Linked DNA regions of Homo sapiens. The protein of the gene in region 1 purifies or fractionates together with the protein of each later gene. This does not show direct contact. Each region holds a gene or a part of one and is shown in the gene's direction. Other genes may lie near its edges. The genes, in order: AP3S1, ZYG11B, AGO3, DHRS2, AP3M1, CAMKV and AGK.

Region 1 (4,130 bases):
TTAGAAAAATATGTTTGGAATGATTCCTAAATTATTATTTCTAAAATACTAAAATTCCAGTCATTATAAATAAAAGTATTTCATGAAAGAGTTTAGTATCTTAGCTCAGTTTTCTTGCATTTATGTCAAAACAATGTAATTTTGGAAGAGATCTTGACGGTAAATCTATCCAAAACTTAAGAAGTGTCATTCTTCTTTTTTTTCTGGTTGATAATCAGTCTTAAGCTGTGTAACTTACTGTGACGTATGGAGTTAAATCTAGTAAGCACTTACAAATGCCCCATGATCTAATTTCCGCCTACTTCTCTGACTTTATCATTTACTAATCTTTTCTTATCTACTGGCCTTTTTTCTCTTCCCTGAACATACATACTTTGTTCTTGATGAAATGTCCTTTTAGTACTTACTACCTTAGCCTGAAATGCTCTTCTCTAAATTTTTTCCAAGCCAACTCCTTATCATTAGATCTCAGCTTAAATGCCACTCTTGCTTAATATTCAGCCTGAAGTAGGGAACCCATCAATATATCATCATTGTATTTTGATTGTCAGTGTAACACTTGCCACTATCTGATGATGTTCTGATGTGTGTGTTTGTTGCTTCTTCCCCACTACCAGTGCTTGGCACATAGTAGTTACTCAGAGAATAGTTTAATGAATGAATGAACTGAAATTAAGCACTGGCTTCTTTTACTTGATGTTTCTGAAGAAAACAGCCACCTTAATTCACCTAGTCTCTGAATAAGTTCACTTAAATACTTTGCCATTGAATGTCACCTTTCATTTGACAAGTGGTTTTTAAACAAATTGTCAGTTTGCTTGAGCTAATGAAAATGATTCGCATTTTGTTTCCAATAACATTACAATTTTTTTGTCATTTAGATTAATTGGAGGATCTGACAACAAACTGATTTATAGACATTATGCAACGTTATATTTTGTCTTCTGTGTGGATTCTTCAGAAAGTGAACTTGGCATTTTAGATCTAATTCAAGTAAGTTAACACTTGCTTCTTACTATCTTAAATAACAGTTTGACATTTAAATTTTTAAAAACTTATATATTCTAAATTTTCTAAAATGATGTTAGTAAGAAATAAAGCATTTCATAATAGATATTGTGTTGGTAAAAGAGGTCAGAGGACATAGAAACAAGCAAACATTTGATCTGATTAAAACTATCATAACTAGTTTAATCATGACATTTTATCTTGCTCATGTAAGTTACAGCAAGGAGCTTAAGACTCGTGGGTTTCTTAACACATGTATCCAAAACTAACCCTAAACCCTACCTCTCCCTGTCTCCTGAAAATCTTTCATAATGTCCCTGGAACTCAAGGTCAGTCATCAGCAAATTTCTTTTTATCTTCAGCCTCTTCTGTTAATATTACTTTACATTTTGCTCTAAATTAAATCTTGCTTCCCTGATGATACTACGTGCAACCCTTTGAAGTAGTGGCCATTTTCTCTCCTGCTTCTTTCTGCCTTTGAGCCTGGAGGTGTAATCTTAGCTTCTCATTGCATTTTCCAGACCATTCTTTCTTCTCAAACACCTCCAAATTTTATCTTATGTTATCAGACTATACCACCTTCTATCCATTTAGTTATAGTCATCACTCATCTCCATCTCTCCTTCATTGGAGATTTTGTTAAGAATTGTGAAGGGTCTGAGATTTGCTCTACTTGCAAACTAAGAAGTTAACCTGCCATAATTTCATGGATGCTGGCAGAAGGCAGGAGATTTCTGGGCCAGAGACAAAGGACCTTATTACTAATAGCAAAAACATTAGCTAAAGTGACAGCATTTGCTTGCACGAATTCTCTAATTCCCAAAGGGTGATATGAAGAGGTCCAGATGATACCTGCACACACAGTGGATTAAATGACAGATGAGGAACGCCAAGTTTAGGGAACTGGAATCTTTTATAATGGATACTAAGCATGTCTGCCCTTGTTTGGAAGGAAGACTGTCTCTTCCAAGAGTGTAAGGAAACCTATCCTTTGCTGTGGAAGAAGACACTGTCTATTTTCCAGGGCTGTTTGATATACAAGCATGCTTAAAAAGATAGCCCAGAACAAAGACAGTCAATGCCTCTGCTCACAATACGTGTGGAAACACAAGATCCATCTAAAATTGTCTCCTAATAGATTTTGGTTCTTGGTTCCCTGGCATTCATTCCAGTACTGCTTGTTTTGTAATTCTTGGTGATTCCATTGTTCATATGTATAATTCTCCCAATATCCTGGTGTCTTCAAAATCTGGAACTCCTCTCTTCCAATAAATTTTGCCCTCCACTCCATCTCACTATGTACCCATTTCTAGATTTTATCTTTGTCTAAACTGTAACCCCTCCATAATCTCAATTTCACAGTTTTGAAGTCGTTAGACCTATTGCAACCCTCAGTTTTAAAAATCCATCATTTTTTTCACTCTGATTTTACTGATGTCTTACTTTCCTTATCCAGCTTAAATTTCATAATCATGGTAGTGATATAGCCTTGTGTACACTGAACTCCTTGCCCACACCCATACATCTGAACATACCTAGAGGAAAAAAAAAAGTAACCATATTTACCAGTCTCACTTTAAATTAATGATCCCTTAGCTCATTGAGTCCTTTATGCTACGCAAGAATCATTTTCTGTTTCCCCGGTCCATTTACTCTCCCATACCTCTAGATGACTACTCATACAGTCTCCTCTCTCCTAAAATATCTAGCACTTCTAGCACCTTGCTTCCCAGTGCACAGATAAAATTGGCTTTTGAAGTTAGCAAGAAGGTGGCATGGTTTGAGCTCTAGTTGGCGTTACAGAATAGACAAGAAATTAACCCAAGCAGACAACTTAGGTAACAAATTCTTAGCACTGTGGCTAAGGCTTTAAAAATAAAAACATTGTGGCCAGGTGTGGTAGTTCACACCTGTAATCCTAGCACTTTGGAAGGCTAAGCTGAGCAGATCACTTGAGCCCAGGAGTTCGAGACCAGCCTGGGCAACCCCATCTCTACAAAAATTAGACAGGCATGCTGTTCTGCACCTGTCGTCCCAATCACTTGGGAGGCTGAGGCGGGAGCCAGGGAGGATGGCTTGTAGTGAGCTGAGATTGTGCCACTCACTCCAGCCCAGGTAACAGAGTGAGACCCTGTCTCAAAAAAAATAGAAATAAAAACATTGTTAATAAAATAAAAAAGGAGATAAATGATAAATTGATCTATTTGTATGCCATATTACTCTTAAATCTGTAATTCTTAAACTGGGTTTTTGGGAGGAGCTGGGTATCAAAGTTACATGAAACCACAAGGTAATCATGGCACATATTCCTGGTATATGTTTCTTCTTTGTTTTGAAGATTGGCGGCAGTGAGGAAATGAACGTAAACATGTATATATTATGAGGTAGAATACAAATTTTTCATAATATTTAAAGCTCTAAGTGGAGACTTGAAAGAAATTTTGAGCTTGAGGTAAAGGTGCCCCAAGATCCCTTGGGTATATGTTCACTTTCCTCCTGGGGCCTACTTGAGAAACACTGCTGAGTTATGTTTTGCTTTCTCAAGGCTTTTCTAGTAAAGAAAAAGAAGCCAAATCTTACTTTTGATGACATTGAAGGGTTGATCAGGACTATATATTGCATTGCCTTGTAACTTTGTTTATTCTTACATTTCTTAGTTTATCCCACCTAGGGGAGTAGTTAATTCATTTTATCATTATGTCAAGAGAGCATTATATTTTTACAGAAAAAAAATTAATATAGAACCATGCTTTCTATTTCTCTGTTTCCCATGACTGAAGAGAGTGGTAGACATGCACACTATGTTCCAAAACACTGTTTTTATTTACCTGAGCCTAGCCACTAGAATTACAGGAAGAAAAACAGGAGAAAGTGTACCATTTCAAATTTAGTCTCTTATTGAAGAGAAATGTTGCTATTAAGAAAGACCAAAACAAATGTGTCTTTTCCTAGAGGTAAATCAGAAGTATTTTATGCTTGCGTCCTGAGATTAAGTCATCACCATTGATTATTATTTTGATGCTGTTGTTGATCTTCTTATGAGAAAGTAGTTCTATCTCCAAAGGGGATTAGATGGGGAGTTTTCAAAGAACAAACATGGTATTAATATATCATATCCAAAG
Region 2 (4,130 bases), on another chromosome or scaffold:
ACCTTCCATCTTCTGTACTGAGTCATGTCTGAATGCAGTCTTCTCTGAAATGGTTAAGACAAAGAAATGATATTCTATAGCTCATTTATATTAGTCTAAATATAATAGGATAAAATTTTGAAAATGAAAAGTTTAGGAATCACTGCTTTAGGAAATTACGCTAAATATGGGATGTAACTTTGATTCTTTTCTTTTGAACCTTTAGGTCCTTTAATCCATTTTTCCCATTACTTGGCTGTTTCACAACACCAGGAGTTCAGCTATGGGCAGTTTGGGCCATGCAACATGTCTGCAGCAAGAATCGTATGTACCAAAAAAAAAGAACTGTGTTTTTTTTCTTTAAGTGAAATTCTCATTTCCCAGGAAAGATATTTCTAAATTGTGTATTAAAGTGATTTTTAAGAACACTGACTTAAAATGTAAGGCCATCTTAGGTTATAAACTTAAGGTATTCTTTTTTTTTTTTTTTTTTTTTTTTTGAGACGAAGTCTCGCTCTTGTTCCCCAGGCTGGAGTACAGTGGCGCGATCTCGGCTCACTGGAACCTCCGCCTCCTGGGTTCAAGCGATTCTCCTGCCTCAGCCTCCCGAGTAGCTGAGATATCAGGCACCTGCCACCATGCCCGGCTAATTTTTGTATTATTATTATTTTTTTTTAGTAGAGACGGGGTTTCACCATGTTGGCCAGGCTGGTCTCAAACTCCTGACCTCAGGTGATCCGCCCGCCTAAGCCTCCCAAAGTGCTGGGATTACAGGCATAAGCCACTGTGCCCGGCCAACTTAAGGTATTCTTTCAGAATGAGCATGGTGTAACTAGACACTGAATAATAGTGGTGAATGAGACACTGTTCTCACCTCAAGGAATTTAAAGATTAGGAGACTACAGTGAGTCCATTTGTTGAGTAAAAGGTCTTAAGTAGATCCACTGTTTATGGTACATTCCGGTGCCCAATTCTCATTCACCCAAAATTCTGTTGTTCAAGATGTCGCTGCCAGCACCCATGGTTTCTGAAGAAGCAAAGTGTTTGAATCAGGTTCTATATTATTCTTTGAAAGCTACGATGTAACTCTTATTTATTTATTTAGAGACAAGGTCTGTCTCTATCACTGGAGCTGGAGTGCAGTGGCATAGTAACAGCTCACTGCAACCTTGACGTCCAGGCTCAGATGATCCTCCTGCCTCAGCTTGTAGCTAGGACTACAAGTGCACGTCACCATACCTGGCTTTTTTTTGTATTTTTTGTAGAGATGGGGTTTCATCATGTTGGCCAGGCTGGTGTCAAACTCCTAGGCTCGAACGATCTGCCTGCCTCTTCCTCCCAAAGTGCTGGCATTACAGGCGTCAGCCATCAAGCGTGGCCTAATTATTTATTAATATAAACTCATTCCACAAATGATTTGACACAAGAAATACACAGAACCACTTTAATAGTAAAGTGTGTATATATATGTGTATATATATATATATATATATATATATATATATATATATTTTTTTTTTTTTTTTTTTTTTTTTTTTTTTTTTTTTTTTGAGATGGAGTCTCACTTTGTCACCCAGGCTGGAGTGCAGTGGTGCGATCTCGGCTCACCACACCCTCCACCTCCCAGGTTCAAGCGATTCTCTTGCCTCAACCTCCAGAGTAGCTGGGACTATAGGCCTGCACCACCACACCTGGCTAATTTTCGTATTTTTAGTAGAGACAGGGTTTCACCATTTTGGCTGGGCTGATCTTGAACCCCTGACCTCAGGTGATCCACCGACCTCGGCCTCCCAAAGTGCTGGGCTTACAGGTGTGAGCCACTGTGCCTGGCCTACTTTTAGTTTTAATTAGAAGTAAGGAAAAATAATTTTTCAAAAATTATAGGGGCCGGGCATAATGGCTCATCCCTATAATCCCAGCATTTTCTGAAGTTGAGGTGAGTGGATCGCTTGAGCCCGGGAGTTTGAGACCAGCCTGGGCAACATGGCGAAACCTAGTTTCTATAAAAGATGTAAAAGAAATTAGCCAGGTGTTGTGGTGTGCTCCTGTAGTCCCAGCTACTTGGGAGGCTGAGGTGGCAGCATCATCTGAGCCCAGAAAGCAAGGCTGCAGTGAGCTGTGATGGCACCATGCACTCTGGCCTGGGTGACAGAGTGAGACTCTGTCTCAAAAAGAAAAAAAAAAATTCTAGGATAGAGGGAAAATAGTCAAATGTAGACTTGTAGGCCATGCATAGGGATTTTTGTGGCTCTGCTGCAAGTAAAAAGCGACATGGTTCTCCATATAAGAGGGAAACATTCCATATCCTTGTCAGGGGAGATGGGGAGGGGAGAGAATTTTTTATGAGAAGTTAACTATGAATTAAATTTCTTCTATTGGACCTTAATAGGGGACATACTATAAAGGGCCTTATATAGGATATGTGAGAGTTGTTTTTACTAATATCCTTATAGCAGAAGTAGTAACATTTAGTGAGATTTTCGCTTGGGTTTTTTTTTTTTTTTTGGAGACGGAGTCTCACTCTGTTGCCCAGGCTGGAGTGCAGTGACACGATCTCAGCTCACCACAACCTACACCTCCCAGATTCAAGCATTTCTCCTACCTCAGCCTCCCGAGTAACTGGGACTACAGGAACACGCCACCATGCCCAGCTAATTTTTGTATTTTTAGTAGAGGCTGGGTTTCACAATTTTGGCCAGACTGGTCTCGAACTCACCCGCCTTGGCCTCTCAAAGTGCTGGGATTACAGGCATGAGCCACCGCACCCAGCTCCTTCTCTTGTATTGTTTGATGAAAACTCACTGCATACCACAAAAAGGCAATGCAGTAAAAGCTCTTCTGTGTCAGATAAAGAAGAATAATTCAATGAATGGGATGTGACCGAGAAAACTGCCTTGTACCCACCTGAACTCCCACCTGGAGGCTTATCCGGTCCTTCCTACTACATTACCCAGAAGCAGAGTTGTTCACTCATAAATCGAAAACTGCCTCTTTAGCTACATTAAACTGTCTCTGCCCTAAAGTCGTTTTCTTTTTACTGTACCCACAGGTTCTGAGGACTCCCAAATTTCTTAACAGTTGATCCCATCATATTCCCAGTCTCTAATCTATAGGTTCCTTTCCTCATAACTCAAGGAATGGACCTTTCACAGCTCAGTAGGAGAAAATAAAACATAATAAGTAAATAATAGTGCATTTTTGGCTGGGCATGGTGGCTCACGCCTGTATTCCCAGCACTTTCGGAGGCCAAGGCGGGTGGATCACGAAGTCAGGAGATCGAGACCATCCTGGCTAACATGGTGAAACCCCATCTCTACTAAAAATACAAAAAATTAGCTGTGGGTTGTGGCACACATCTGTACTCTCAGCTACTAGGGAGGCTGAGGCAGGAAAATCACTTGAACTGGGAGGTGGAGGTTACAGTGAGCCGAGATCGCACCACTGCACTTCAGCCTGGGCGACAGAGTGAGACTCTGTCTGAAAAAAAAATAATAATAATAATAATAATAGTGCATTTTCATATGAGTATTTATTTTTGTCACTACTTTTAGGTATTAGAGTTATTTAGGTTTTACTCTATGGAATGACAGCCCTGAATAATTTATTTTATTTTATTTTATTTTTTTTTTGAGACGGAGTCTTGCTGTCGTCCAGGCTAGAGTGCAGTGGCATGATCTCGGCTCACTGCAAGCTCCGCCTCCCACTTCACGCCATTCTCCTGCCTCAGCCTTCCAAGTAGCTGGGACTATAGGCGCCTGCCACCACGCCTGGCTAATTTTTTTGTATTTTTAGTAGAGACGGGGTTTCACCACGTTAGCCAGGATGGTCTCGATCTCCTGACCTCGTTATCTGCTCGCCTCGGCCTCCCAAACTGCTGGGATTACAGGTGTGAGCCACCACGCCCAGCCCCTGAATAATTTATTCTAAAATGCACTGTAATTTGGGGAATATTAGAATATTTTGTCTCCAACTCAGATAGTTTAGGTTCCTACCTTGTGGGCTTATTTTGTTTATATTTAAATGGAATTCACTTCTATTTGTATTAAAATGTTTTAATGTGGCTGGGTGTGGTGGCTCACACCTGTAACCCCAGCACTTTGGGAGGCTGAGGCAGGCAGATCACTTAAGGTCAGGAGTTTGAGACTGGACTG
Region 3 (3,578 bases), on another chromosome or scaffold:
TTAGAGAAGTCTTGGAAGTTGCTTCTGAATTACAGTAAAGAAATTAAATGAAGTCTTTATCCTTAAATAGGGCCAGGCATTGCTATCAACATAGTGTCTTTGGTTTTCCCCTTTAAATAGAAAACACCAAGCAGGGCCTTTCCAGACAATGTAGTCTTTCCTGTAAAGAAAATGGTTTTGGTGTGGGATTTGGTAAAAACACTGGTTAGTTTGTAATGAAGAAAGAATTTTGGCATAGACAGTCCGACCCAGTTCATGGATACAGTTTGATCCCAGGGAGTTTAACAAAAGGAAGCTTTGGTTTTGCTAGCAACAGACTTGATCTTCTATAGTAATTAATTGCAATTAAGGTTTTCCAGGAGCTTTCTCATTTCTTAGCCCAGGGTCCAACCCCATTCCCTCTTTAAAAAAGAAAGAATAGGCCGGGAGCAGTGGCTCATGCCTGCAATCCCAGCACTTTGGGAGGCCAAGGCAGGTGGATCACAAGGTCAGGAGTTTGAGACCAGCGTGGCCAATATGGTGAAACCCTGTCTCTACTAAAAATACAAAATTAGCTAGGCGTGGTGGCAGGCGCCTGAGGCTGAGGCAGGAGAATCCTGCTAGTCTGAATTACAATAAGGAAATTAAATGAAGGATTTATCTTTAATAGAGCCAGGCATTGCTATCAACATAACATGTTTGGTTTTCCCCTTTAAATAGAAAACACCAAGCAGGGCCTTTCCAGACAAGGTAGTCTGGAACCCAGGAGGCGGAGGTTGCAGTGAGCCGAGATCCCACCATTGCACTCCAGCCTGGGTGGCAGAGTGAGACTCCGTCTCAAAAAAAAAAAAAAGAAGGAATAGGAAAAGGACTTAGAGGCAGTTGATATAGAATTCTACTGGGGGTAAATGACACTCTCAAAATACTTGGGAAAGAAGAATCACATGCCACAAGCTATAGCTTGATTAATATTTTAGCATGTTTTCCATGTTTGTATTCTAAAGTTTGTTTCCTTTGACATTCCATTATCTTACTTACTAGAGTGCCACCATTCTTATTTGTAATACAATCAGTGTTTTATGCCATTTGTGAATCACACAATTGTTCTTTTTTCCCCATCACACACACTCACACACAAACACACACACTGTTAAAAATAAAAGAGGGGAAGGATAAAACAAAAATAGATAGAATGATGATTATTACAATGTAACTTTAACATATATGAAGAGAAATTCTAACTCAGTTAAGTGAGAATTAAGATTGAAAGTATTAATGTTGCAAGTATTATCTCTAGCCATGGAATTTTTTGCTGGCTATAGAATGCTAATGTGAACAGAGTATATATCAGGAATATGATGTATTATGGCACAGTGATAATATTATTGTTGATATTAGCCAGATGTGGTGGTTTGCACCTGTAGTCCGAACTTCTCAGGAGGATGAGGCAGGAGGATAGTTGAGCCCAGGAGTTTAAAGCAAGCCTGGGCAATACAGCAAGACCCCAATCTTTAAAATAAATAAATAAATAAGAATTATTCTTGAAAGTAATATTCTAACCTTCTGCCAACCAACAGAGATCCTCATATTCTTAAAGAAAATTAATATAGCTTATGGTTTTGATAAATTGGACTCTGATTTAAACTTTAAAATGTTATGACTTTTATTCTGATACATGGCTTCTAAAATATGTAAAAAATTATATTGAATGAATTAATACTTAACCTGTTCATTTCTCTTAATTTATGTATTTATTCTGACTTTATTATACAGCTTATGTCTCACATCTGCCTTCTTGATATGTGCAAAATATTGTGTAAAAATAGTTTAAAACTCATCCCAGTTCCTAGTCAAGCGTGGGCTATAAGAGAGAAGGCTTAAGGTGTTCTTTAATGGAGGAACTTTTGAAAGATCACAAATGGAAAAAGCCTATTGAGAATTTATTGCCTTTGAGAGTAGAAAGGGCTCTAGAATATGAGCCAGAGACTTGGAATTTAGTAATAGGTCTCCCACTGATTTGCTCCGTGTCCTTAGGCAATTCGTTTAATCTCTGTGTGCCTAGTTTCCCCTTGTAAATAAGAGTGGTAATACCTGTCCTCACCTACCTCACTAAATTGTTGGAGTTCTTTTGTTCTGAGTCAGGGTCTCACTCTGTTGCCCAGGCTGAACTACAGTAGTGTGATCATAGCTCACTACAGCCTCCAACTCCTGGGCCCAAACTATCCTCCTGCTTCAGCCTCCCAAGTAGCTGGGACTAGAGGTACATGCCACCACACCCAGCTAATTATTTTCTTTTATTGCAGAGATGGGGTCTCACATGTTGCCAAGGCTGATCTCTAACTCCTGAGCTCAAGCAGTCCTCCTGCCTCAGCCACCCAAAGTGCTGGGATTATAGGCATGATCACTAAATTGTTGTAAGAATAAGATAATGTTTGCGGAAGCATTTGAGTTCTCCAAAGGAAAAGCTATTCAGACGTTCAAGATAATAGAAGAGTGTTGTGTGAAGGATTCCTTTCCAGTTTGCCTCTGTGAAAATGTCTTTGTTGTAGATCATTTTATGAAATAGGAATAAGAGAAACATAGGCCTTATCATGGTGTAGTGTTCACTTACAAACATATCCTGTTGTTTCTTCCCTGCAAGATATCCAGCACACAGGCTGAATTTTTCTTTATAATAATCCTTGGCAAAAGCATAACTTTTCAAAAACCAAATGATTTTAGTGGTGCTATGGCAGCTGCAGTTTTGAGTTAGATTAATGTGGTGAAAACCATCAAATACTTAGAAATTGACTGGGTGCGGTGGCTCATGCCTGTAATCCCAGCACTTTGGGAGGCCGAGGTAGGTGGATCACTTGAGGTCAGGAGTTCGAGACCAGCCTGGCCAACATGGCAAAACCCCGTCTCTACTAAAGATACAAAAATTAGCTGGGCACGATGGAGGGTGCCTGTAATCCCAGCTACTCGGGAGGCTAAGGTGGGAGAATTGCTTGGACCCAGGTGGCAGAGGTTGCAGTGAGCCAAGATTGTGCCACTGCACTCCAGCCTGGGCAACAAAGCGAAGCTCTGTCTCAATAAAAAAAAAAATAATAATAATAAAATACAAATACTTAGAAATTAACTTCGCCTTTGCCTTCAGGCACTTTTGCTACATGTTAGCATCAGAGGCTATTGTACAACTAGATGGTTATTCCCTGTTTCTTGGCCGATTTTTGGTACCTTTCTTTGAAGAAGAGGGTTAGATTTTAAGAAAGAAAGTGTGCTTATTTCACTCATGTCTTTGCAGAATTTAACTTTGCTTTACTTTAAAAATTCCAATCATCATGTACCTATAAAGGTTAAAATATAGTGAAAGTTTCTGCTTCATGTGAATTCAATTCTGAGCACCTGCAGGTCATATCAGGTGTCTGATGCAGTTACCTTTATAGATCGTGGCAGGTCCTTACATTTCAACAGGCTTATGCATTTCCATGGGGGGAAGAGATTCTGTTTCTAGGAAATTACAAAGGGCACACCACTGCAGGGAGTGTAAACAATTCTTTGTTGCAACAGACAAGATTTTTTTTAAAAAAAGAAAAAAGGATGCATTTTAGGTACACAGG
Region 4 (4,018 bases), on another chromosome or scaffold:
GACCGGGCCATGGCCAAGCTGCAGGGGGAGGGGCTGAGTGTGGCGGGCATTGTGTGCCACGTGGGGAAGGCTGAGGACCGGGAGCAGCTGGTGGCCAAGGTGAGGGGGCAGGCGGTGGAAGGACACAGAGAGGGGAACATGCAGAACCTTTCCTTCACTGCTTGGCCCTTGTGGGGTGGGTCTAGAATATGTCCTGAGACCATGACTGCACCCAGGCTGCCCAAGCTAACCTCGCTACCCAGAAGGTCCCTCAGGAAAGTGACCTGTTCGTGAGAGGACCCTCACCCCACCCCCAGGCCCGGGGAGAATCACTGTGGAGGAGGAGTCTGAAGGGGTGAGGGAGGTCCCCAGAGGGACTCCTGGAGCAGACCTTCCTCTCTCAGTGCCTGGCCCCAGGAGCCTGCCCTTGGGACACCTAGGTCATTTTCCTTTAGGAGCTCTGCAAGCTTTGCCTGAAGGCCTTATGACCTGGGCTGCCCTGGGAGGGATAGTCCTCCTCAGGCCATCTCCACACTCATCCAATCTCCTCTCCGCAGGCCCTGGAGCACTGTGGGGGCGTCGACTTCCTGGTGTGCAGCGCAGGGGTCAACCCTCTGGTAGGGAGCACTCTGGGGACCAGTGAGCAGATCTGGGACAAGGTGAGAGGCCTCCCCTGGGGAGGCGGCTGAGGGCCCGATTCCAGCTCTGCACTGGGCTCCAGCATGCCTGTGCCCACCAAGACTCTGTTTCCCTCCAGAGGTTATGGGAGAAGCAGGCCCTGGGTGGTAGTCCTGCCTGGCCAGCTGTCTCCCAAAATGTGCCCGGATGCTACTTTCTGGCTTGTTGGTTCTTAAATCTGGCCCCCACACTTTCTGCTTTGTTTTCTCTTCTCATCACTTTTTCATTTAATCATTCAGCAGGTATTTATTGCTGTCTGCCAGGCACCACTATTCCAGGCTCTAGGGATACAGCTGTGAATGGTTAGTCAGAGTCTCTCTGTAAGAGTCAAACATTTTTGTATGGTACACCCTTTTGTAGGGGAAGATACGGATACTGTGTTTTTCTTTGGTGACCTGTGCCTGTAGCGGAGACTGTCTCTCCTAGAAGGGGGCTCCTCACTGAGTCCCACACAAACTTGCCGACAGGACCAGATCCAGCCATCAGCATTCCGGGGGCTTAGACATCCCAGCCTGCTGTAAGTCCATTCAAGGATTCTGCTACCTTGTCCACAAGGGACCGGGAGAGACCTTGTAAAATGCCTTGAAGCTCATCTTGGGCCTAGTTGTTCCCCAGTGACTTCTGTTCCCTTCACTCTCATGTTTTGTTTTCTGTTCTCTCTGCCAGAATGCGTCGTGATGAATCTCATTCTTTCTGCTATTGTGAGCATTCACCACTCTGCCCTAAGCACTGGGTCAAAGTGTTTCCTGCCTTCTGGCCTTAGAGTGTTCTGCCTTCCCTAGATCCTGCACTCTCACTTGCCAACATCATCTTCAGGCTGGCCCCTCCCTTCTATCTGCCCTTGGCTGGGTGCCCTTGGCTACATCCTCAGAGATGATCTGAAATTTGAGCTCCCTGCAGCCCCTGCTGAGCAGCTTCCCCAGGCTCTTTAGCTATGTTGTTAATGCCTCCAAAGGATCATTTGTGATTTTATAGCTGGGATTTTATTGCTGACAGTCTCCTAACCCTCCTGAATCATTTTGCTGTTTAGTGTCTCAGTTCACAGGATCATGACTCTTTTTCTCGAAACTGTTGCAGTCCTCCCTCCTGAAGCTGAGGGCAGATGCCAACAATCTGACCTTACTTTCTCTGATTCTCCCCTGTTCTCCAAGGACTTGGCCTTCAGTGAGCAATTCTGTACCACTGGACAGAAATCATTGATGACTCGTCCCCGATCACATCTGCCATCACCTCAGAGGTGAAATTGTCACAAAATGAGTTTAGAATTTACCAGATGCTCTGCTTTCAACTAAATGTGTTTTCCGTAGGTGTCCTGTAAGGAGAATTCCTTACCACTCATCTTATTCTTGAGCCAGTTTTGAGGCCATCTCCAGGCAGACCCCCCTTCTTTCCAGCAGGTTGGGAAACCTCTGATCTGTTAAACTACCAAAACCACATCACCTCCATCCTTCTCCAGCGACTCCAGCGTGCGCCCTCTTTCAGGCTCATGGATAGTTCTCTGCTCAGAACTACTTGGCACACTGAGCTACTCTCTCTTACTTTCTAATGGGGCAGTTTTCTTCATCAAGGGAGGGAGTCTCACCTTTTCTTTGGCTTGGTTTTTGTTCCTGAGTCCAGGAGGGGTCTTACCTCAGCCCCTCACTCAGCCTGATGCACATGGAGTATTGGACAGATATCCTGTGGGCTGGTTGGGGTCTGTTTTGACCAGGAAACCCTTACAGCTAACCTAATCCTCAATTCCTTCTTATTAGGGACCTCAGGGTGGTACCCACTTCTGACATCTGGACCACTTCTTGCAGTCATTGGGGGTCATCCCCCACACTGGTAACCTGTCATCAAATGGGCCACAGCAACATTCAGCTTAAGTATTTCTCCTTCCCACATCCAAGGGATTGAGTGGGAGTGAGATTGGGGGGTGGAAAAAACAGTGAACAGTCCTGGTGAGTTGCAGATGTGGTCTCATTCCCTAGAGATGCAGGATGCAGCTGACCTGAATCAGGACAGATCCCTGCAGGAGGGACTCCTGGTGCCATGTCAGTCCCACCTGGCACTGCCCTAGCTCCCAGGCTCCGCCTCTGCATCTTTCCTTGCTACTTCCTCTTTCACTTCTCCCCCGTTCCCAGACCCACCAGACAGAGCTTCCAGAGTGTCAGGACATGTGTGACTTAGCCCAGATTCAGACTTTAGTCACAAGCAGGATCAGCATAGACATCTAGCTCCCAGCATGGCAATTCTCTGTTGTGTCTCCCTGTTTGTATTGGCTGCAGGAAAGCTCAGAGCCAAGTCTGCGATAAGCTGGTGTGTGTAGGCCCTTACAGCCTGCATTTTTATGACCAAATAATAGAATAAATGCTCAGTCCTTATCACATGCTGTGAACTGTAGGCACCAACCTCACTCTTGCTTTTTCTTATTTTTCTACACTGATTTTTCCTTTTCTCCATTTCTTCACACATAGTACCTATTTGATTTATTTTATGCTGTTGCATTGTGAGTATGCCTTAAATTCTATGGGGACAAGGTAAGAGGACAAGCAAATGAAAGCTCAGAGAGACAAAAAAGGCTCTTCCAGAAATCTCCCTTGCTTCTAGCACCTGCTTCCCCTCCATCAGGCTGTCTTCAGTCTTTCTCCAGAGGCCTCTGCTTACAGTGTGTTGTTGTTTTCTTTTTAAGAGACAGGGTCTCACTCTGTCACCCAGGCTGGAGTGCAGTGGCATGATCATGGCACACTGCAGCTTCAAACTCCTGGGCTTAAGGGATCCTCCTGCCTCAGCCTCCTGAGTAGCTAGGATTATAGGTGTGCACCACCACACCAGGCCAATTATTTAAAAATCTTGTAGAGACAAGGTCTCACTATGTTGCTCAGGCTGGTCTTGAACTTTTGGCCTTGAGTAATCCTCCCACCTTGGCCTCCTAAAGTGCTGAGATTACAGGCATGACCCACTGCCCCCAGTCCCCATTTTCTTTAAAAGGCCTGAACATTTCCTTCCTCGTGTCAGTCCTGAACAATTCACATTTTCAGGGCTCTGCTCACAGGCCTGTGACTTAGCCTGCCTGCCTATGAAACCATTAGCAAATTGGAAATACCTCTTGCACCAGTCAGAAGGGGGATTGGTTTCTCTTATATGCACATACATTGGGTCTACTGCACAAATTACAGGGCTCCAAGTGTCTTATGAGAGCAGGACTTGGGCTGACCATGTCTCTCTGCCCTCACCCATGCTCTGCTCTGATTTCAGATCCTAAGTGTGAACGTGAAGTCCCCAGCCCTGCTGCTGAGCCAGTTGCTGCCCTACATGGAGAACAGGTATGGCAGGGCGGGGGTGGGGACCAGTCGGAGTTGGGGACCTGAGGTGGGCACAG
Region 5 (4,130 bases), on another chromosome or scaffold:
GGCATACCTGTAGTCTCAGTTACTCTGGGGACCAGCTGGGACTAGCTAGTCAGACTTTATCTCTTAAAAATAAAAGAATTATTATTATATTCCAGCCAGAGTTAAGTATGGACCTTGTCCCCTGACCTGTTAATAGAGATGTAAAGCTTCAGTTAATCTGACACCCAGAGGGTATCTCTATTGTTCTAGATGTAGTGATTGTTGGGCTAGGTGTCATGGCACGCACCTATATTCCCAGCTATTTGGGAGGCTAGGGCAGGAGGATTACTTGAGCCCAGGAGTGAGGCTGCAGTGAGCTATGATCATACAACTGCACTCCAACCTTGGCAACAGAGCAAGACTCTGTCTCTAAAAACAATAAATAAAAATAAAAAGATACAGTGATAGGTCTAGTGAAGACTCATATTCCATTGATGTTATCTTCCTTTTTTTTTTCTTTCTTCAGGATCTACAGTCTTTGCAGAAATTCAGGGGGTCATTGATGCTTGCATTAAACTATCTGGAATGCCTGATCTCTCCCTTTCTTTCATGGTAAGTTTTATTCTCCTGTTTTATAGCCCCTTGAATGCCTAATACATGTGAAGTACTAAATGAAATGATAAATATTGAGATAAGTTTGCATCTTAGATTGCAAAGGATTATCTCAGAAATATTCCTAGCAGAGTTTCCTAAGACAGTCGCTTACATGATGAGCGTGGTCTTTGTGGAAAGACTAAGGGAGGTCTTTGCCTGAGTGTGCTAGAAGGGGCTTAAAATTGGCTGGCTGGCTTCTGCAAATATCCAGTATCATTTTTACTGAATAATTATTTGCTTTGCTGATATGAAAGGACACTGGTCTTTTGTATCATTTTAGAGTCAGCATGATATACTGCTAGGAACAATTAAGAGAACTGACTTCTGGTGTTGTCACCAGTTTGCTCTGACCTTAAGTCCTCTGAACCTCAGTTTTTTAATCTGTTAAAGGGAAATAATACTACTTGCCTTTTCTCCTTTATAGTTATTGAAATTCAAATAAAATAATGTACATAAAATATTTACAAACTTTAAAGCATTATGAAACTATAAGGTTGTGTAGATGTGGTCATAAACTCTTCCATGACTGCTTTATCTTCAGGGAACATATTTGTCAAGGTATCTGAGTACAGTTCCCATATTCATTATAGTCTATGAACGACTGTCTTCTGTTTTTCTGGCAGAACCCTAGGCTTCTGGATGATGTCAGCTTTCACCCCTGCATCCGGTTCAAGCGTTGGGAATCTGAAAGAGTTTTGTCATTTATTCCTCCAGATGGAAATTTCCGACTCATATCATACCGTGTCAGCTCACAAAAGTATGTTGATGCATCAGCCAGAATCTGCCATCATACATATCAAGTACAACTCACCTTTCCCTGTTTCTTTCTGAAAGTTGAGTACTTGAGGTCATCACTGCTCACTTTAACCATAGCTCACCAGGAGACCCAGTGAGAACGGGTGAAAATACGCACCTAAAATAATCCGTATACTTTGAATGTATGAGTGTAGAGTGGTACTAAGTGAGACTAGAGTAAAATCTATAGCCAAGAACAAGCAAACCATACATAACCTGGGCAAAAATTGTGGTACCGGTCCTTTGCAAGGTTATGCATGGTCAAATTATGGCACTGGTTCTTTGCTCAGGTTATGCATGGTCCATTTTGCTCTGCTTCTGAAAGCTGAGTACTTTGCAAGCAGAGCAAAACGGACCATGCATAACCTGGGCAAAACCATGAACCATTGCCATAATCTTACCATAGTCTGTAGAGTTTGTGGCCAACAAGGAGACAGACCTACCTGTAGTTCGTGAGGACATTCCCCAATTTACCTGCTTCAAGTACGTCTTCTCTGCGTTGAGTTTTTAAGGAACTGTTTAGCATTGAGGGGCCGGGTGCAGTGGTTCACTCCTGTAATCCCAACACTTTGGGAGGCCAATGTGGGCAGATCACTTGGGGTCAAGAGTTCTAGACCAGTCTGGTCAACATGGTGAAACCCTGTCTCTACTAAAAACACAAAATTAGCCAGGCGTGGTAGCGTGTGCCTATATAATCTCAACTACTTAGGAGGCTGAGGCATGAGAATCACTTGAACCTGGAAGGCAGAGGTTGCAGTGACAGATCACACCACTGCACTACAGCCTGGCCAACAGGGTAAAACTCCATCTCAAAAAAAAAAAAAATTTAGCATTGGGGATCGGAGTTATAGGTAGTTTGTTTCTTGAAAATACCAAAAGTTATTTGAGTAACATCATGACAGAACTCAAAAACAGAGAAATTATTTCTCGGCTCTTTTCTTTTCCTTTTTTTTTTTTTTTTTTTTTTTTAAGCCGGAGTTTGGCTCTTGTTGCTCAGGCTGGAGTGCAATGGTGAAATCTCGGCTTACTGCAACCTCCACCTCCAGGGTTCAAGTGATTCTCCTGCCTCGGCCTCCCAAGTAGCTGGGATTACAGGCATGCACCACCACACCCGGCTAATTTTGTGTTTTTAGTAGAGGCGGGGTTATTCCATGTTGGTCAGACTGGTCTCGAACTCCAGACCTCAGGTGATCTGCCCACCTCAGCCTCCCAAAGTGCTGGGATTACAGGCGTGAGCCACCGTGCCTGGCCTGTTTCTTGGCTCTTATCACATAGGAACTGTTTTCATTTATATAAAACATATTTTACATTATTTTTCAGTGGGATCATAATTCATTTTAAACTAGGGCCATTTGCCCCAATTGTTTTTGTTTGTTTGTTTTATGTTATTTTGTTTTGTTTGTTTGTTTTGAGACGGAGTTTCACTATTGTCACCCAGGCTGGAGTGCAATGGTGTGATCTTGGCTCACTGCAACCTCTACCTCCTGGGTTCAAGCGATTCTCCTGCCTCAGCCTCCCAAGTAGCTGGGATTACAGGCACCTGCCACCGCGCCCAGCTAATTTTTGTTTTTTGTTATTTTTTTTTTTTATTAGAGAGGGGATTTCACCATGTTGGCCAGGCTGGTCTCAAACTCCTGACCTCCAGTGATCTGCCTGCCTTGGCCTCCCAAAGTGCTGGGATTACAGGTGTGAGCCACTGCACCCAGCCACCCCAATTGTTTATACTGTTATTAAACTTCAGATTTCTGTCTTGATTTGTATACAGTTCCCAGCACAGTGGTACAAGAACATTATGCTGTACTCAGCTCCCCCTTGTGTAGATACTGAATCTGCAGTTCTAGAGGTACTGCCATCTTGGTATCCTTGGAGGACTGGTTGCAAAAATCAGCAGATGCTCGAGTCCCTTACATAAAATGGTGTAGTATTTGCATATAACCTATGCACATCCTCCTGTATACTTTAAATCATCTCCAAGTTACTTGTGATAGTACACTGTAAACACTGTGTAAATAATTGTTATACCATGTTGACTTTTTATTTTTATTGTAGTTATATTGTTATTTTTTACTTTTTTTTTTTTTTTTTTTTTTTTTTTTTTTGAGATGGCGTCTCGCTCCTTTGCCCAGGCTGGAGTGCAGTGGCACGATCTCAGCTCACTGCAATCTCCGCTTCCCAGGTTCAAGCGATTCTCCTGCCTCAGGCTTCCAAATAGCTGGGACTACAGGCATGAGCCACCACACCCAGCTAATTTTTGTATTTTTAGTAGAGACGAGGTTTCACCATGTTGGCCAGGCTGGTCTTGAACTCCTCACCTCAGCCTCCCAAAGTACTGAGATTACAGGTGTGAGCCACCGCGCCCAGCCCTAGCTAATTTTTGTAGAGACGAGGTTTCATCATGTTGGCCAGGCTGGTCTCAAACTCCTGACCTCAGGTGATCCCCTCCCAACCCTGGTCTCGGCCTCCCAAAGTGCTGGGATTACAGGCATGAGCCACCACGCCTGGCCAATTTTGTGAAATAATATTTTCAATCCTCAGCTGGTCAAATTCAAGGATGCAGAACTGTGGCTACAGAGAGCCAACTCTGTAGTACCTTATTGTGGAGTTAAAGGCAGGGTAGGATACTCTGGACAGAGGTTTTCAGGATACCTCTGGAGCTCTCCCCACACCATTAATTGTGTTTGTGCTTTTGTATCTTTCTCTGTTTCTCTTTTTAGTCTAGTGGCAATACCAGTGTATGTGAAACATAGTATCAGCTTTAAGGA
Region 6 (4,130 bases), on another chromosome or scaffold:
ACCTCAGCTGTGAGTTAAGCAGGGCTTGGGCTTCAGCATGTTCATTGCAGCAGGAAACCCAGCCCCAGCCCTTGAGAGAGTAGAGCAGCAGAGAGGAGGGGGTGCCTGCAGGCTGGTGTTCACAGCTGCCACTAAATTAGGAGGTGTTGCCTACAGTTGTTGGGAGGCAGCTGGAGGCCTCTTGGGCCCCTCCTGGCCTCCCTAGATTTACTGCAAGCTCTGGAGCCCCACGTGGCAGGGGACCAAGGTAGCAGGAAACTCTGTTTATGTCTATGAAAGGTAGGGCCTGAACCAGGATGATCTCAGCGGAGGAGGGGACAGGACCCCAATGTGGGGCCTCCGGACCTCTTGGCCTTTGTCCCGTTTGGGCTTTCCCTGGGCCAGACTTACCTAAAGATGCAGCAGAGTCCCTGGGGGACCATTTATCACCAGGGCACCAACAGAGGACCCCTCAGGATTGCTGGAGGCTCAATTCCCTGAGTCCAGTGGTCAGGCCCTGGGAGCAGGCCATAACTGGGGAGTGCTTGGCTCTCAGGCTCCATGAGAGCCAGCTGGAGGGCAATGGCCGCACCAGGGCCTGCACTCCCCACAAGCTCCCTCTGGGCAGCCGGTAGTGCATACTGTTCAGTTCCTCTGCAGAGAGTGGAGGGAGCCATGTCTCCAGGGAAATGGCTGTTGTGGAGCTCCCATGCCCTTCCATGGCCTAAGTGTACCTGAGGAAGAGCTCAGATCCTGTGTTGCTGAGAGGAGAGCTCTCCATTGTTGGGTGTTGGGTCTGGGCCATGGGGGTGAAAAATACAAACCCCTTCCACTTGGCCTCCTCTCTTTCTGAGAGCTGTCCCTTGGCTGTTCCTCCCAGGTCTCCTTTGTTGCAAGCAGGTGCCCAGGGCTTGGTGCACACACCCGAAACCTCCCAGGGAGCAACAGTGGATAGCAGATGGTGGAGTGGGTGTGGGCAGAGGGAACCAAGGTGCTAATTGAAAGCCAGGCCCCTCTTTCTCCTCTCTTTGCCCTGGGGCCAAGTCCAGGGCCCCAAGCCAGTATACTTAGACTGGTGAGGAGGAGGAGGAGGAGGAGTGACTGGCTGAAATTTGGGCAGCCATAGTAGGGGGCAGGGGAGACAGATCTGTTCCCATCTCAGCCTTGAGGCTTCAGGACATGGCTCCAGGCTGACATTACGGGGTGGAGGCCCAGTTTTCTGTGCCTTTCATGGGACAGACCCCCATGACCAGCCCTGGACCTCAGTGGGCACGAATGCATATGCAGAGCCGAAAGCTGGGGCCAGGATCAAGGACAGGCATGCACAAAACCTCCCACCCACGCCACACTGGCAAAGCTGGGAGCTGTTGGAGTGGGGTGGGGGGTGGGGCATGGAGGTTGTGGAAGGTATCTCAGAAAAGGGCCATTTTGAGTCTGGCCTTCGAGCATCAGGATTGTTTTGGACAATGTGTTGCACAAACCACCTTATAATGTCAGAAATCACAATGAAAGAAGAGATTCAGTTCTGCTCTCAGCACCTCGCTCATGTGGCAGCTGCTCCACAGGAAAGCCAAGGTGGGCAGAGCTCTTGCCAGTGCCCACACTTCCTACCATTGAGTGGACACAGTTGAGCTGGCGAGTCACCTGTTGTTGGACATTTAGGTAGTTGCTGAATTTTTTTTAATGTTATAAATAACTCTGCCGTGACAAATAGGAATCTGACGGGAGGCTTTTGGGGGAAGGGCACTCTTGCCAGAGGGAATGGTGTAAGCAAAGCAACAGAGCCAGGGCACAGGTCCCTCCCAGCCTTCTTGGGAGACTGCAGGCTAAGGTACCATCCTCCTGCCCAGTACACGGCCCTCAGACTGAGATGACTGTTGCAGGCCCCCTCCTGCAGCTGTTATGGTGTGAAAATGTGTAGCCGGCAATGGTAACTGGCTATGCCTCTGCTCTCAGCTGTGAGGATGGGATTCTGGCCACATGCTTCTCCCCAGTGGAGGAGTGCAGGGTTGTGCCCATGGTGGCAGACATGCAGTCAGTGACGATCTTCAAAGCCTCTCCTTTGTCTCTGCTGTGCCTCGCAAGATGGCTTAAACCCTGTCTGGAATAATGCTGATGAAATGCATTTGTATTCCCTGAGCCCAAGCAACCCAGATGAAGGAATGATAGAGTTTGTTCCCTAATGCTGAAGGCAAATCTGAGGGAGAATTTCCAGGGCTGTGACTCCTGGGAATCACAGCCTGGTGGCTGGCTTCTGCCTGGGAGGAAGCAAGTAGCAGCCAGGGTTGGCTATGGGGCTCGTTTGGGTCCTGGTCTTTGACTTTGGCTGGCAGAGTTCATCTTGCCAAGCTGCCTCCTTTGCCTCCTCCCTTCTCCACTACCTTGAGGCTGTGAGTGCCTTCAGGTCGGGGAGCATCTAGGTACCCCCAGGCCCTAGCTCAGGCCCTGCACACAGCAAGTGCTAATTGGCATGGAGGGAAAACATGCACAGTCAGCAGAGGCAGAGCAATTTCAGCGCAGCCTCAGTGCAGAGCTTGCTGTAGCCCCAGTGTCACACTGACCGGGTATTATGGAGGCACACCCTGGCGTCAGATCTGTGAAGGTCTAGTCAGTAACCCCCCACCCCCAGCTTTGAGCATGGGCTATGAGTGCCTTTTCCTTTGGACACTGGAGTCAGCCCCCCTAGCACTACAGATGAGGATTGGGCTGTAATTGGCAGGATTGCAGACCTGTGGGACACCGTGCCCCAGGTGGAAAGAGTGCCTAGCGCTCACTGAGCCAGCTATATCTGTTCTGTTTGGGGGCCTTGCACCTGGACCTGACAGCCCAGGTCCCCTGTGGGCCCCAGTGGGCATGAATGCATATGCAGAGCCGAAAGCTGGGACCAGGATCAGGCTTGTTTTGCTCTTCCTGACCAGTACACCTGCATACCTCCTGGCAAATCTTTTCCTACTGAGTCCTAATGCTGCCTCCAAAGCTTTACCTTGCCTCTCCACCCAGATTATCCCTCTGAGGAATCCCCCAAGCACTGTGCCTGAGTGCAGTATTTACTAAATTCATCGAAGTCATTATAGTAAAATAGTAAAAATTCGCACAGAAAATTAGTAAACAAAAGATATGTCTGCCTTTTTGACATCCAATTCTTTGCCCAGGAGAGAACTCTTATTTCCTTCAGTATTCTTCCAGAAAAGAGTTTGTGAGGGTACATCAGTATGTAAACTTTAAAAAATTTACCCAAGCCAGGTATGGTGGCTCATGCCTGTAATCCCAGCACTTTGGGAAGCTGAGGTGGGAGGATCACTTGAGCCCAGGAGTTCAAGAACAGCCTGGGCAACGTAATGAAATCCTGTATCTACAAAAAAATTTTTAAAAATTAGCCAGTTGTGGTGGTGTGCACCTATGGTCCAGTCCTAGCTACTCAGGAGGCTGAGGTGGGAGGATCGCTTGAGCCCAGGAGGTTGAGGCTGGAATGAGCTGTGATCATTCCACTGCATTCCAGCCTGGGTGCCACTGCATTCCAGCCTGGGTGACAGAACAGCTGGGCATGGTGCGGGTGCCTGTAATCCCAGCTGCGGTGGGAGGATCGTTTGAGTTCAGGAGCTCTGGGCTGCAGTGCGCTATGCCAGTTGGGTGTCTACACTAAGTTTGGCATTAGTATGGTGACTTCCTGGGAGCTAGAGCTCATCAGGTTGCCTAAAGGAGGGGTGAAGCAACCAAGGTCAGAGACGAAGCAGGTCAAAACTCCTGTGCTGATCAGTAGTGGGCTTGTGCCCATGAATAGCCACTGCACTCCAGCCTGGGCAACATAGTGAGACTTGTCTCTAAAAAAAGAAAGAAAGAAAGAAAAGAAAAGAAAAGAAATAGGTCTTCCAGAATCCCCCCATGTGTCCTGAATCAATCATAACCCCTCCTTTTCTCTTAGAAGGGACCATTATCTGACTCTGCTTATTTCCTAGCTTTTCTTTATAGCTCTACTGCTGTGTTTGTATCCCCCTTACGGGTTTGTTCTGCCTGTTTGAACTCTATCAATAGACTCATACTATATGTATTCTTTTGTGTCTTTTTGCACTTAACACTGTGTAAGAGTCACCAGGTGGTTGGGTATAGCTGTAGCTCCTTTGTTTCCATTGCTATATAATATTCCATTGTGT
Region 7 (4,755 bases), on another chromosome or scaffold:
CAGGGCTGGCTAGAGCTTGTGCCTGATTATTCTGGAATCTGAATGCATCCTAGTAAAATGGTATTTGGAAGAGAGTAGAATTGGTATAGGTCTCCAAAACTCCAACCTACACATCTGCCTGCAGGTGTGTATTCAGATTCCCTTAATCTCCTATATTTCCATCCTTCTTCATCCTTCATCAAAGCTGACCTTTTCTTATTTGGGGAACCACTTTCATGCTGAAGCCCTAAAGCATACGCTGAGTCTGACCCTTGGAACATCAAAATCAAGTCTCAGATTTTTCTAGCCTGCAGGTGAGCAGTTCAGAAGCTTATTTCCAAACACAAACGCTTTAGATAGTTGGAAAAGAGGAACTGAAAATAATGGTCTTCCATACCCTATGACAACATTTTAGAGCTAGAAGGGTTTTTTTTTAATAGTAATGTTCTCAGTCCCCTAGTTTACAGATGGAGACTCAGGAGAGAGGGCTAGAAATTTCTTGCTACTAAACAGTGTGGCCCAATGGATTGGTGCACCCTGGCATAAGGAATATGTTTACTGCACCATAGCCTCATTGAAGGTCCCCGCCCCGGCCTTTTTTTTTTGAAGCATTCACCTAGGGAGACATAGGTAGGATGCATGTCTACACGTAGGAAATGTGCAGACTAGATAGCAAGCTCCATGGGGCAGGAACCATGAAGGGCCTTGTACCTGAGCATACCCCCAGTGCCTGATGCAGGGCCTAGTGCACACTCAAATGTTGGTTGACTGGCCGGGTGCGATGGCTCATGCCTATAATCGTAGCACTTTGGGAGGCCAAGGCGGGCAGATCGCTTGAGGTCAGGAGTTCGAGACCAGCCTGGCCAACGTGACAAAACCCCCGTCTTTACTAAAAATACAAAAAAATTTAGCTGGGCCTGGTGGCACACACCTGTAATCCCAGTTACTCGGGAGGCTGAGGCACAAGAATTGCTTGAACCCGGGAAGCAGAGGCTGCAGTGAGCTGAGATTGCACCACTGCACTAGCGCCTGAGCCACAGAGTGAGACCCTGTCTAAAAAAAAAAAAAAGTTGGCAGACTGAATGCTGGAAAGAAGAAGGACCTGGCTTTGTCCCCACACCAATCTGGTGGGCGAGTACAGAATGTAAACTGTCTGGAGGTTGGCATTGGCCTAGCTTCTCCGTTGCTCTCTTGTTCTCTAGAATCCAATCAAGCACCTGTGGCCAGAGAGCTGTGTGAAATGGAAACCAGTCCCACCAGCCCCTGATTGCACCCCCGCAATGTCTTCTCGCCCTGTTTAATGTCATGTCCAAACTCCTGGCCGCCGTGGCCTGTCTCCACCTCTCCAGCTTCCTCGCTTGGCCTGTCTCCTTAGCTCTCTCTGTCTCACCCACACTGGCCTGCAACTCGCCAGAGTGCCCCAGGCTTTTCAGCTTTTGCACGGGCCCTTCCCTCTCCAGGCTCTCTCCCCTGGATCTTTGCTTCAGCTGCTCCTTCTTGACATCCAGGTCTCAGACCAATGGCCCCTTACTCAGAAGGCCTAGCGCAGGCCGCCTAATTTCACACAGTTCTCCCCCTTCCCGCACTGCCTTCCATCACCTCGTTTCATTTTCTTCGTGGCACGGAGCACCATCTCCAATGGCCTTGTTCATTTAGTTAATTTATTTTCCGACTTAGTTCCAGGTGCTAAAACAGTGTTACCTTGGCAGGCTTCCCATCAAATATTGTTGCGCAAAGGATGGATGGATGAAAGGAAGAGTGAGCCAATAAACGAGGGAACGCCGGGAAAGGCAGCCTCAAGCCGGTGGGCCCTGCCACCCCCACCGTCCCTGAGCATCCGAGCCGGTTCCCGCCCCCGGCCCGAACTGGCCCGCGCGCGCTCGCAGCCCCGCGGCGGAACCCGAGGGCGGCGGCAGCGGTTTCCCTTGAACGAGCCGGGGAATCTGGAGGGAGCACACAGGAAAGGCAGAGCCGCGAGCTGGACCAGCCGTGGTGAGTGCAGCGGCGCCCAGGCGGGGAGCGCAGTGCGGGTCGCTGGGACTGAGCGCGCGAGCGGGGTGGGAGTCGGGATGGGGGCCCGGGGCGCTGGGCGGAGCCTCTGGAGTCGCGCTGGGCCGAGAGCCGCGGGGACCCAAGCATCAGGGGTCGTGGGTGCAGGCGGCGGCGCGGCTTGAGGGTAGGGGGTGCGGGCCTGGCCGGCGCGGCAGGGGAGGGCCTCGCGCGGATCCCGTGGTCACGGCGGGAGTCAGCTGTCCTGGGTTCGAGTCCCAGAGCTGTCGCTAACTTGTGGACCCCCCTCACTTCGTCCCTTGGGCTTCAGCATAGCCCTTTGCAAAATGGGGCCAATAGTATCAGATCCATTGATGGGTTGGTTGGTTCATTCATTCTGGCGCTTTACTAGGTTCTGGTGCTGCAGATGGATAGACGAACTTGCCCATGAGGGGTTCACTATCTAGTAAGAAAAACATTTCCACCTGGATACTCCACAGGCGTGTCAAATTCAGTATCTCCTAAACCGCACTACTTTTCTCCACAAACCTACCACTCAAATCTAAATGACTGAAATCACTATTCAACCAGTCACCCAAGCACAAAAACCTGGCTTGGTTCCTCCTCTCTCACTTACTACAGTCAATGGACCACCAACTGCTGCCAATTTCTACTTTCTAAAGCTTTCCAAATCCATCCTTTATCTTGGTTTGTTCTTTTAGGAGCCTACAGATTATGGCAATAACTTCCTAATGGTTCTCTTTAGCTTTAATTTTAGCTTCTTCCAGTTCATTTTTCATTCTGCTATAAAGTGGTCTTTTAACAGTTCAAATATGATTATATCACTCACCTGCTTAAAGCCCATTAAAGGTTTTTCATTGTCTTCAAAATAATAGCCAAAGTCCTTAGTGTGGGTTCAAGGTCTTTTCTAATCCCACCTGGTCTTCAATCCTTTATCTCTAAACCACTGTTTCTCAAAGTCTGGTATAGTGGTGACCTCCATTGCAACCAACATGGGAGTACTTGTTAACAAGTGAAGATGACAGCTTAATTCCAGAACAAATGAGACTCTTGCGGGAAGGGGCAGTTCCCAGGATTCTGTGTTTTTAACAAGTTCTGCACTAAAGGTTGAGAACCCCTGTTCTAGACACTCCAATTTTTACTCCGCTGTTGATGAGATTCAGGACACACTGCCGCAAAATATGACTCGTTGGCATTAGAGGAAACAACTGAAGCAGGAAAGTCACTTTGTGTCTTCCCACTTTTCTCCCCTGAAGCAGGCCATAAAAGAATTGTTTGACCTTCTTCTGTATAAGACCCTTCAGTGAGAGGTGCTCATCCTGTAAGTATAGGATCGAGGAAAGGAATGCCCTTATCTTTGAAGACACAGGTACACAGAGAAGAATCAGAACAAATAGGCCTTGCTAAATTCTCCCCAGCGTATTACTGTTAGATCATACCCCCTTTTTCCAGTCTCAGCCATGAACCTAATTCTCCCCTCAACTATCTACGTATGTTTCTCTCAACACACTTTACTGTCTTTTATGCCTTTGTACACTCTCAGTTTGGGCTACTGTAAAAAAAAAATAGCAAAAACTGGGTGGCTTAAACAACAGAAATTTAATTCTCACAGTTCCGGAGGCTGGAAGTCCAAAGTTAAGGTGCCAGCATGGTTGAGTGCATGGTGATAGCTCTCTTCCTCGGTTTGTAGAGATCTGTCTTCTTGCTGTATCCTCACAATGCAGAGAGACCATCTCTGTAGTGTCTAGTCTCATAAGGACACTAATCCCTTTCATGGGAGCCACTCTTATGACCCAATTATCTCCCGAAGGCTCTATCTCCTAATACCATCTCAATGGGGATAGGGCTTCCACATCACCATTTTTGGGGAACACAGCATTCAGACAATAGCATCCACAAAACTCCTTCGTTACTTTAGTGATTTCCTCCTCATTATTCAAGGCTCAGGGAAGACTTCATTGACTGTGCACCACCCCCTCAGCCCTAGACCAGGTTAGGTTCATTCTTGCAGACTCTCACAAAGCCTTGTGCTGACTCCTCGACATTTATCCCACTGTACTGCAATCATAATTGTATAATTGTGTTAGCATTGTGGGTTTGACAGTTGTGAGCACTTGAGAGAACGCATGAGACCCATTCTTCTCTGCCCTCACCCCCAGCACAGAGCCTACCATATAGGTGTTTATTAAAGGGCTCTTGAATGAAGGAGTGATTTAGGGCCAGATGGAGAGGAGTTCAAGAATTAGTTGGGCCTTTGGAATCATGTGTCAGCCTGACGGTGTATGGGATTCACAGGAAGATGGTCTCCCTGGCACTGGCTTCACTGCTGCTTTTGATAAGGATGTTTCTACCCTTGAGAGGAATTTTAACCAATGGGATTTAAAGGGAGTCATAAAAGAACTGGACTTTTAAGTGGAAACAGTTTTTTTTTTCTTGGTCTATATACCTCACTAACAGATAGTCATAAAAAAATTTTGCTTAAATTTTTGTTTATCTAGAAAATAAGTTCATTTTCAAAAACTTAGAAAGTACATTGCAATTTTAAAAATAAACATCACCCACCATTCCACAACCTAGAGGGATCTACTTTAAAATTTCGTTTTTGAGCCAGGTGCAGTGGCTCACGTCTGTAATCCCAGCAATTTGGATGGCCAAGGCGGGAGGATTGCTTGAGGCCAGGAGTTTGAGACCAGCCTGGGCAACATAGTGAGACCTTGTCTCTAACAAAAAAAGGAAAGAAAAAAATTAGCCAAGTGTAGTGGTATG

What was found.
Region 2: the proteins of AP3S1 (region 1) and ZYG11B purify together in Homo sapiens (affinity purification with mass spectrometry; 2 studies listed by BioGRID and IntAct, with this or other methods). This does not show direct contact.
Region 3: the proteins of AP3S1 (region 1) and AGO3 purify together in Homo sapiens (affinity purification with mass spectrometry; 3 studies listed by BioGRID and IntAct, with this or other methods). This does not show direct contact.
Region 4: the proteins of AP3S1 (region 1) and DHRS2 purify together in Homo sapiens (affinity purification with mass spectrometry; 2 studies listed by BioGRID and IntAct, with this or other methods). This does not show direct contact.
Region 5: the proteins of AP3S1 (region 1) and AP3M1 purify together in Homo sapiens (co-immunoprecipitation; 5 studies listed by BioGRID and IntAct, with this or other methods). This does not show direct contact.
Region 6: the proteins of AP3S1 (region 1) and CAMKV purify together in Homo sapiens (co-immunoprecipitation; one large-scale study listed by IntAct). This does not show direct contact.
Region 7: the proteins of AP3S1 (region 1) and AGK purify together in Homo sapiens (affinity purification with mass spectrometry; 2 studies listed by BioGRID and IntAct, with this or other methods). This does not show direct contact.

What each region holds. Positions count from the first base shown.
Region 1 is NC_000005.10:115,869,136-115,873,265, forward strand, and holds part of AP3S1 (AP-3 complex subunit sigma-1), read left to right. Parts: intron 1-881; coding exon 882-993; intron 994-4,130. UniProt on the Homo sapiens protein: Part of the AP-3 complex, an adaptor-related complex which is not clathrin-associated. The complex is associated with the Golgi region as well as more peripheral structures.
Region 2 is NC_000001.11:52,816,327-52,820,456, forward strand, and holds part of ZYG11B (protein zyg-11 homolog B), read left to right. Parts: intron 1-205; coding exon 206-303; intron 304-4,130. UniProt on the Homo sapiens protein: Serves as substrate adapter subunit in the E3 ubiquitin ligase complex ZYG11B-CUL2-Elongin BC. Acts to target substrates bearing N-terminal degrons for proteasomal degradation with the first four residues of substrates being the key recognition elements.
Region 3 is NC_000001.11:36,067,008-36,070,585, forward strand, and holds part of AGO3 (protein argonaute-3), read left to right. Parts: 3' UTR 1-3,578.
Region 4 is NC_000014.9:23,639,258-23,643,275, forward strand, and holds part of DHRS2 (dehydrogenase/reductase SDR family member 2, mitochondrial), read left to right. Parts: coding exon 1-99; intron 100-536; coding exon 537-638; intron 639-1,017; exon of another isoform or gene 1,018-1,174; intron 1,175-1,964; exon of another isoform or gene 1,965-2,390; intron 2,391-2,408; coding exon of another isoform or gene 2,409-2,435; exon of another isoform or gene 2,436-3,181; intron 3,182-3,894; coding exon 3,895-3,962; intron 3,963-4,018. UniProt on the Homo sapiens protein: NADPH-dependent oxidoreductase which catalyzes the reduction of dicarbonyl compounds. Displays reductase activity in vitro with 3,4-hexanedione, 2,3-heptanedione and 1-phenyl-1,2-propanedione as substrates.
Region 5 is NC_000010.11:74,126,308-74,130,437, reverse strand, and holds part of AP3M1 (AP-3 complex subunit mu-1), read left to right. Parts: intron 1-445; coding exon 446-531; intron 532-1,196; coding exon 1,197-1,330; intron 1,331-4,082; coding exon 4,083-4,130. UniProt on the Homo sapiens protein: Part of the AP-3 complex, an adaptor-related complex which is not clathrin-associated. The complex is associated with the Golgi region as well as more peripheral structures.
Region 6 is NC_000003.12:49,863,047-49,867,176, reverse strand, and holds part of CAMKV (caM kinase-like vesicle-associated protein), read left to right. Parts: intron 1-3,516; exon of another isoform or gene 3,517-3,802; intron 3,803-4,130. UniProt on the Homo sapiens protein: Does not appear to have detectable kinase activity.
Region 7 is NC_000007.14:141,549,464-141,554,218, forward strand, and holds the start of AGK (acylglycerol kinase, mitochondrial isoform 1 precursor), read left to right. Parts: upstream 1-1,946; 5' UTR 1,947-1,971; exon of another isoform or gene 1,972-2,155; intron 2,156-2,220; exon of another isoform or gene 2,221-4,755. UniProt on the Homo sapiens protein: Lipid kinase that can phosphorylate both monoacylglycerol and diacylglycerol to form lysophosphatidic acid (LPA) and phosphatidic acid (PA), respectively. Does not phosphorylate sphingosine. Phosphorylates ceramide.